2 separate regions of the Homo sapiens genome follow, and region 2 is linked to region 1. Evidence: fine-mapped expression QTL. Tissue or cell type: whole blood. Region 1 holds a variant in brackets; the other region holds the start of a gene. All regions are shown on one strand. Distances are between the middles of the regions.

Region 1 (4,160 bases):
ATAACTAACACAGCACCCAGGAGCTGCCAAGAGCATTCTTCAGCTCCACTCAAATGCTTCTAACTGACCCTCCTAAGAAAATGAGAGCAAGGGGACTAGTGTGAATGACTTACTTCTGGCTGAGGGTGGCTACTGGTGCCTTACTGCTGAATGTTCTAGGGCCTGTTTTGGGTAGCAAAGTACCTGGTCCATGGGAGGATATTCTTGTCCTTATCTTTGTCAGCAGATTTCCCAAGAAAGCCCCCAAATGTTGATCAAGACAGAAAATAGGCCTTTTTTGTCTTTTATGGAGATACACTGTTTAGGCTGATCAGAAATGTCTGGTGATCTACTGCCCGGACTATATTAAGCCATTTTCTAGAAGATAGGATATTAATTTAACACCACTTGGGCATATTAAGAAAATTGGAGAAAATTAGTAGTGAGAATCCAGAAATCCTCCTTTAACAAGCAAGGCACTTGAGGCGTCTGTTTAAGGGTTCACAGCCCCTGTCTGTGTGGTTAGATCTGCCCCTGCTCACTTGACTGCCGGTTCTTATCTCTAAATGCCTTTGGGAATTTACAATTTATTTGGACTTTTGGGGGGAATTCTCTAATTTATCTGTGTTTAAATGGGTGCTGTCTCATACAGTAGTAAGTTTGCGTGAGATAAGGTAACTTTTAGAATGAGAGAAAAAAAGAGGAATCTTGTATAATTAGAGTCAATGTTGGGAAAACTTGGAGGTGAGTGGGAGGGGCATTCCTGTGAATTTGATAGCACCCAGCCTGAAGGGGAGTCTTGAGGATTTAGAAGGAAAGCACATGTGAGGCCCCAGCACAATGCCTGGCAGAGTGAGAGTGCCTGGCAGAGATGAGAGGTTCCCAGCAAATATTGGCTCCTCCTTTCTTTTATCTCCTTAATGTTTTGTTGATGAAATTGACTCAGCCTGCAATCTGACCTCTGCTGGGCATTTCCTGTAATGCATCTCATGAAAATGGTAACTAATATTTAGCATTTGCCTGGCAACCTAGCATTTCAGGCCCTAAGCATTTCAACCCAAGGGAGTTTATTCATTTAAGAATAAACATTCAAGGTGCATTTACTGAGAACCTATGGTTTGCTAAGGACTGTGCTTGGCCCTGGGTTACAGAAATGGCTAGACAAGGCCCTAGCTCTCATGGAGTCACATTTCCAGTGCCTCTCAGAAGCTCCAAAATGATAGACACTGTTTAGGAAAAACTCACACTCAAAAGTATTTTTCCCTATTCTGTCACTCAACACAATAATAATCAACACAGACAGACTTCTGTGACCAAATGTCAGGGTGTGGGGGAGTGGTTCTGTCCACCACCAAGTAAGCAATCAGTTTTGCTATGGACACCAGCTGGGTGTCCTCCAATTCAATTCTGACACTATCTACCTGGAGATAGCGTCAGACCCCACAGGTTGGGGCTCAGTCCCCAAAACTACCTGCTCTTTCTGACACCATTTGCAAGGATGGGACTCCAGAACTTTTGACCGGCCAGCTTCAAGTAGGAGTTCCCACCGTTAATTTGCTGGAGCAGCTCACAGAATTCAGGGAAACATGTTTACTGGTTTATTATAAAGGATGTTACAAAGGATACAGATGAAAAGATGCATAGGGCAAGGTGTGGGGGAAGGAGCTTCCATGCCTTCCCTGGGCACATCACCCTTCAGGAACCTCCGCATGTTCAGCTATCAGGAAGCTCTCCAAACCCTGCCCTCTTGGGCCTTTTATGGAGACGTCATTGGATAGGCATGATTGACAACCATATAGAAATGTTGTTATAGAACCCAATTTTGGTCTGCTCACCCAGTGCAATAAAATCAGATACCCACACCAAGGCTGTTGCAGTGACAGAAAGGAAGGCATTTATTGCAGAGTGCTGTGCAAGGAGGACCA[G/A]GCAGCAAAATGCTCAAAAATCTGACCTTCCAGATGGCTTACAGGCAAGGATTTTTAACGGTGGGGTAAATTTCAGGAAAACAGAAGCTACAGGCAAAATTATAAATCAGTACACCGAGGTTGCACATTGGTTTAAGCTTAAAAGGGCGGGACATCTTGGGGGTAGGGGGTGCTCACAGGTAGATTCAGAGATCTGACTTGCAGTTGATCTTAGTTGCAGAAGCTCTAAGAATTTTGGGGTCAGTAGAAAAATGCTAACTTGCTAGGGGGAGTGACTTTCTCCAAGCCTCTCAAGAAGAAACTTAGAACAAAGGACGGTGGGATTGATAATAGGTACAGTTTAGTCTTCTTTTCCTCCTAATCTGGGATCTTTGTGGTGAGGGTCTTCAGTGGAGGCCTGAGCCTTTGAAAGACAACTCAGGGACATATGTTAAGATCTTATCTTTAGTTTCTATAGGGCAAGGGAACTTCTCTGGAGCTTTAACTTCCTTGGCTATTGTTCTTAAGCCACTTATTACCTTCTTGTTTACCAAGTTACTTAATTACTTCTAGGGCTAGCTGGATGCCTGGAATTTTTCTTAAAGGAACATTTGGATTTTCCCTTATTTCCATGCCTTGAGGTTTACAGGTCCCTAAAAGTTGGGGGCGGTCCCAGTTTCTATCTCATTGTGATTGGACAAAAAGGGTATGATCTAACCCCAGCAAGGCCTGTTTGTTCAGATTCTGCTTGGCCTCTCTGTACAGCTTTCCTTCTTCTAGGGTATGGGGCGTGTGTAGGAGATGCTTGGCAAATCTTTGATTTACATAGGCTTGCTCTGCCTTCAAGGCCTCTGCAGAGTGAGAGCAGGAGGACTCTGAGCCTAGGGATTACACCATTTTTGTTTTTGAGACAGAGTCTGGGTCTGTCACCCAGGCTGGAATACAGTCGTGAGATCTCGGCTCACTGCAACTTCCGCCTCCTGGGTTCAAGCGATTTTTATGCCTCAGCCTCCCAAGTAGCTGGGATTATAGGCACTCACCACCACGCTTGGCTAATATTTTTGTATTTTTGATAGAGATGGGGTTTCACTACGTTGGCCAGGCTGGTCTTGAACTCCTGACCTCAAAGTGATCCACCCGCCTCGGCCCCCAAAGTGCTGGGATTACAGGCTTGAGCCACTGTGCCCGGCCAGGATTGCAACTTTTGGCTGGCCAGCCCATGCTTAGGCTGTTCTTCCTTGCAGAACTGGAGGTCGGTCTTCTCCTGGGCTCAAGTGATCCTCCTGCCTCAGCCTTCTGAGAGGCTGGGACTATAGGCGTGCACCACCACATCCAGCTAATTTTTAAATTTTTTGTAGAGACAGGGGTCTCATCATGTTGCCCAGGTTGGTATCAAACTCCTGGGCACAAGCACTCCTCTCACCTCAGCCTCCAAATTGCTGGGATTATAGATGGGAGCCACAGCACCTGGCCTCACAGTTCTTTCTAATCAAGCACACTCTAAATCCTAAATCCACTGTGAACTCTGGCCTTTGGCAGTTTGCTCAGCAATAGATCAGCAGCAATAGATGAGCTTAGGTAAGTTGAATTCAGCAGCAGTGCCTTTCTTTCCGAAAGCATCGGTTGTAAGCACATTTATGGCAGCTAAAGGTGGTTTTAATCTCAGTTTCTAAGTGAAGGGGTCTTACCCTTATGAGCCCTTTCTAGCAACTATGTAAGGGTTGGGGCCCCTCCCTTTTCTTACTGTAGCTTCTTCTCTGGGGGCTCCTTCTTGAGGTCCTTACCAAGCTGATGGGAGAAATATCCTTTCTTTAAGTCTGCTGGCAGTTCCATTGGGTGGGGTGGGATTCTCTAATACTCTTTTGCTGAGACCCCTGTTTTTTCAGTAAGAACATTCCTAGCACTGTCTTTTCTGCAAAAGGTTGTTTTCTGCCTCAGGAAGGTCACTTTTTCCAGGACTTTAAAATTCTTTATCCTGGTTTATTTCATGGTAGTATCACCAACTAGTATTTATACTCTATTCATAGAACTGATTGGTTTTAAAGGTCCCAATTTACACACACACAAATATTCCCTCCCACCCTCCTTTGGGATTAGACAGGCCTGTTGCCTTGCTATCTGTTTTTTTGAGACAGGGTCTCTCTCTGTCACCTTGGCTGGAATGCAGTGGTGCAATCACGGCTCACTGCAGCCTTAACCTCCCACCTCAGCCTCCTGAGTGGGACTACAGGTGTGCACCACCACCCTTGGCTAATTTTTATATTTTTTTGTAGAGAC
Region 2 (4,160 bases), 83 kb before region 1:
TGTTCCCTTATCTGAAGTGTAGAAATTTAGTGGAGGCAAATTTAAGAGTTAGGAACCTTCCATTCTGTCAACTGTAGGGGAAGGAGGAAACTAATATTGACTTTGTTTTGTTTTTTTTTTGTTTTTCCGGAGACGGTCTTGCTCTGTTACCCAGGCTGGAGTGAAGTGGCATGATCATGGCTCACTGCGGCTTCAACCTCCTGTGCTCAAAAAACTCTCCCACCTCAGCCTCCTGAGTAGTTGGGACCACAGGTGTGAGCCATCATGCCCAGGTATTTTTAAAATTTTTTTGTAGAGACGGGGTCTCACCATATTGCCCAGGCTAAACTCCTGGACTCAAGCCATCCACTCTCCTCAGCCTCCCAAAGTGCTGGAATTACAAAGGTGAGCCATCATGCCTGACCACGGTTTGAGGTGTTTTTGTTTGTCTGTTTTTTTGTTTGTTTTTTGAGACAGAGTCTCACTCTGTCACCCAGGCTGGAGTGTAGTGGTATGATCTTGGCTCACTGCAACCTCCCCCTCCCGGGTTCAAGCAATTCTCCTGCCTCAGCCTCCAGAGTAGCTGGGTCTACAGGCACGTGCCACCATGCCCAGCTAATTTTTATATTTTTAGTAGAGGGGGTTTTGCCATGTTGGCCAGGCTGGTCTCAAATTCCTGACCTCAGGTGATCCACCCACCTTGGCTTCCCAAAGTGCTGGGATTACAAGCGTGAGCGATCATGCCTGACCACCGTTTGAGTTTTTACTATGTGCCAAGCCCCTTCCCAGTCTACTGCATTCCTTGTATTAACCTTTTCATACAAATAATATTATCTCCACTTTGCAAATTGGGGAGTTGGGACTCAGAGAGGTTGGGTAACTTATTGAAGATCACACAGCTGGTAAATGCCAGAGCCATGGAGATGATGGTCCTCCAATTCTAAATTTAACTCTTCACTATCCTGGAATGCTGCCCTAGGAGAGGGCAGTGTGGGTGAAATTTCTAGGTGTATATGGAGATGGGGGGGATGAGGTGGTGCCAGGATTATGGCTTTGGGTTCAGGCAGACTGTGGGCAGATTTAGGGCTGAGAAGTTGATCCCAAGGTTCTCTGGCTTGGCTCTTGGTTTGAAGTTCTTCTAGTCCATATGGTGGGATCAAAAACTCCCAAGTCTAAGGGATGTGGTTGAGCCCGCAGTGGGGGCCAAGAGTAGAGGCTAGGGGTCTCTGGACCATTTTATAGGGTCTCCAGTTCTTAGAGCTTGGGTCTGAGGGTTCTGGGGCCCAAGACCTCCAATTATGGGGTCCAGCTCTTAGGTGTTCAGGCCTGAGGAGCCACGTTCAAGAGTCCCTGTGAAGTTTCAATAGGAAGGGCTTGTTTCAGAAAGTCTCTGGGTTTGCAGGGCTCAGACTGGGGGTCCCATCCTAAAGGCCCTTTTTCTGAGTTTTAGGGTCCTTGGGCCTGGGGGATGAGAGAGATCCAGTTCTGAGGGTTTCAAGAGGTACGGTCCCCGAAAAGCCCAGTTCTGAGAGGCCTGGTTTGGAAATCTCGCCCTGAAGATTCCTGGATCCCAGGGCTCAGGACCAGGCGTCTCTGGATCTGAGGATCCTGGTAGTGATGGCTTAGGGTGGTGTTCCCTGGTCCGAAGCCCGGAGCTAAGGGCACCGGGTCTGCGGTGCGGCTGCGAGGAGCAGGGAAGCGCAGGCCCATGGCAGCCGCGAGGCGGAGGAGCGGGCCAGCGGGCGGCAGTGCTGGCGGCCCCCACACGTTCTGCGCTGGGTCGGCGCTAGGACTCCGGGGCGGCGGCCGTGGGAAGGGCGGCGCTAGGACCCCGCGGGCCCGGCGGCGCGTGGGGCGGCGCGTGTTGACAGCGGCGGCGGTGGAACCGGGCGGGCGGCGGGAGTCGGCGCCTCGGGTTCCTACCTCGCGTCCCTAGGCGGCGGCGGCCGGGCGTCCCGGGATGGCCTTCATGGAGAAGCCGCCAGCCGGCAAGGTGCTGCTGGACGACACGGTGCCGCTGACAGCAGCCATCGAGGCGAGCCAGAGCCTGCAGTCCCACACGGTGCGCGGCCCAGCGGGCGGGCGGGCGGCGTGGGGCGGCCCCGGGCCGCGAGGGGGCTGCGGGCTGCCTGGCGCGGGCCGGGCAGGGTCGTCGGACGGAGACCGGGCCACAGGGTGGGCGGCCCTGGCCGAGAAGGCTGTGGCGCGCCGCTGGGTCTGGGTCAGGGCCCCTGGGGCCCAGGCGAACGCTGAGGCCCGGAGGGGCCAAGGATGGGGACCGCAGCTCCCGGCGCCGCGGGGTGGAAGGAGCTCGGCGGCGACCAGGAAAGCGACTCCGAGTTGGGGGGCGGGGGCGGGGGCTGCGGGATTCCCGGGCTCACCTTGGACTAGGGGAGCAGGAACGAGACCGCTCAGGACCATCCACTTCTGCCCGCCGCCAGCCTTTTCCTTTTTGAGGCCGTGTAATTTCCTCCTTGCAGCTGAGGGTCTGGGTGATGGGGATGAGGGTGTGCCGGGCCAAATGAAGTGTGACTCCAGAGCCTACTTGTTGGGACAGCAGAGTGTAAGTGGCTGGGGTCTGCAGCCCCGTTTCCAGGTCAGCCGCTTGGCCCTGGTCCCGGGAAGTGGTGGGGGCGGCAGTCGGGGCGCTGTTAAGCAGGTGTATGAATGTGCTTCTCTAACTTGCTCTTTAGTGGGCAGTGGTAGCATTCATTTGAGTTTAAAATCCACTCGAGTAGCATAAAGGAGTAATAGGTCCTCATAGTAAACATTGGCAGGGTTCATTTCTGCTACATATACGGTCTTTTATGGGGCTTTAAAACCGTGGTTGTTTTCATTTGCTTGTACCTTTTTTTTTTTTTGAAAGGCCCACTATGCATTATAATTTCCAAGCAATAAATCTAGGAACCAGCAAGAAACCTGGAGCTATCAGCTAGTGGGACTTTTTTGGAAAAGTAATGAGTGAGGAGAGAGATTCCTTCAATTGTGATGTTTTGTCAGTCCACCGAATCAGATTCAGACTCAGAGGCTTGTTTGTTTACCATTGCAGTGTGTTTGGGGGGTCATCATCTGGAGGCTAAAGCTCACAATAGCCTTCTGTTTCTCTTTTCGTTCAAGCTCTTCTGATGACTTCAAAGAGACCTTTTATTCTGTTGTATTAAAGTGAGACTTTTTTGAACCTCAGTTTCCTCTTCTGACAGCCGTGCTTTGTAGGGCTTGAATTGTTCAAAGCATTCACTTCCAGTTAAGAAAATTATTATCTTTTTAAAAAGGGCTATTTATTTCACGCTGTGTGTCTTTAATCCTATTCTGTAGACATGTGAGAAGGCACATACAGGACAGAATTTGTTAAACTTGCTATCATTTGTGCCTAAAGGGAGTATGGCATAAGGGTTGAAATTTAGGATAGGGAGTCAAGAGTAATTCAGCTATTAAATTTGATTTTTGACTTGACTATTGGCAAGTAAGTCTTATAACCTTTCAGGGAATAGTGTCGAGTCCTTTAGGTTTATTTTGTATTGAAAATAAAGAGATAGATGTTTCTAAATACTCACAAATTACTTTCCCTAGGAAGCATTCATGATTTCTACAGCCCCAGCCCATGTGCCTACCCACACCTTAATCTTGATTAGTTTGTCCTGTAATTACTTCTTTACTTTTTGTCTCCACCAGGCTACAAGAGGAGGGGCACTTCTTCCTCACTTTTGAGTCTCATTCCCTGGTTTTTGATAGGATTTCAAATGTGTTTATCAAATGACTAAATAATCCAACTTCAACCTTACTATGCCTCTTTTTCTGTTTATGTAAAATGGTAATTGTAAACATTGAAAAAATAACTTAGAGATCAGTGCTTTAGCTAGGTGGCGAAAGATGTAATAGGATTCTGTTTTTATTGTAAGGGTGTGTGTGTGTGTGTGTGTGTGTGTGTGTCTGTGTGTGTGTGTGTGTGTGTGTGTGTAGAGACAGCGTCTCACCATGTTGTCCAGGCTGGTGTGTGTGTGTGTGTGTGTGTGTGTGTGTGTGTGTGTGTGGAGACAGCGTCTCACCATGTTGTCCAGGCTGGTCTGGAACGCCTGGGCTCAGGCCGTTCTCCTGCCTCAGCCCCACAAAGTGCTGGTATACAGATGTGAGCCACCACACCTGGCCCTGCAGATCTTTTCTTTAAAAAATAAAATAATTTA

What was found. PIP is the estimated chance that this variant, and not a neighbour inherited with it, causes the effect.
Region 2: it holds the start of PXK, and the variant in region 1 is fine-mapped to the expression of PXK in whole blood (INTERVAL, PIP 0.96).

What each region holds. Positions count from the first base shown.
Region 1 is chr3:58,413,849-58,418,008 of GRCh38, forward strand. The region is part of intron 17 of PXK (PX domain containing serine/threonine kinase like); the gene reads left to right. Among named protein-coding and RNA genes, the nearest start is that of PDHB, 18 kb to the right of the region's middle. The variant G/A (reference allele first, on the strand shown) is at 1,905.
Region 2 is chr3:58,331,050-58,335,209 of GRCh38, forward strand. It overlaps PXK (PX domain containing serine/threonine kinase like), which reads left to right and starts at 1,843. Exons shown (of 18, transcript NM_017771.5): 1 at 1,843-2,041. The coding sequence starts at 1,940. RefSeq lists silencers at 1,617-2,146, 2,393-2,687.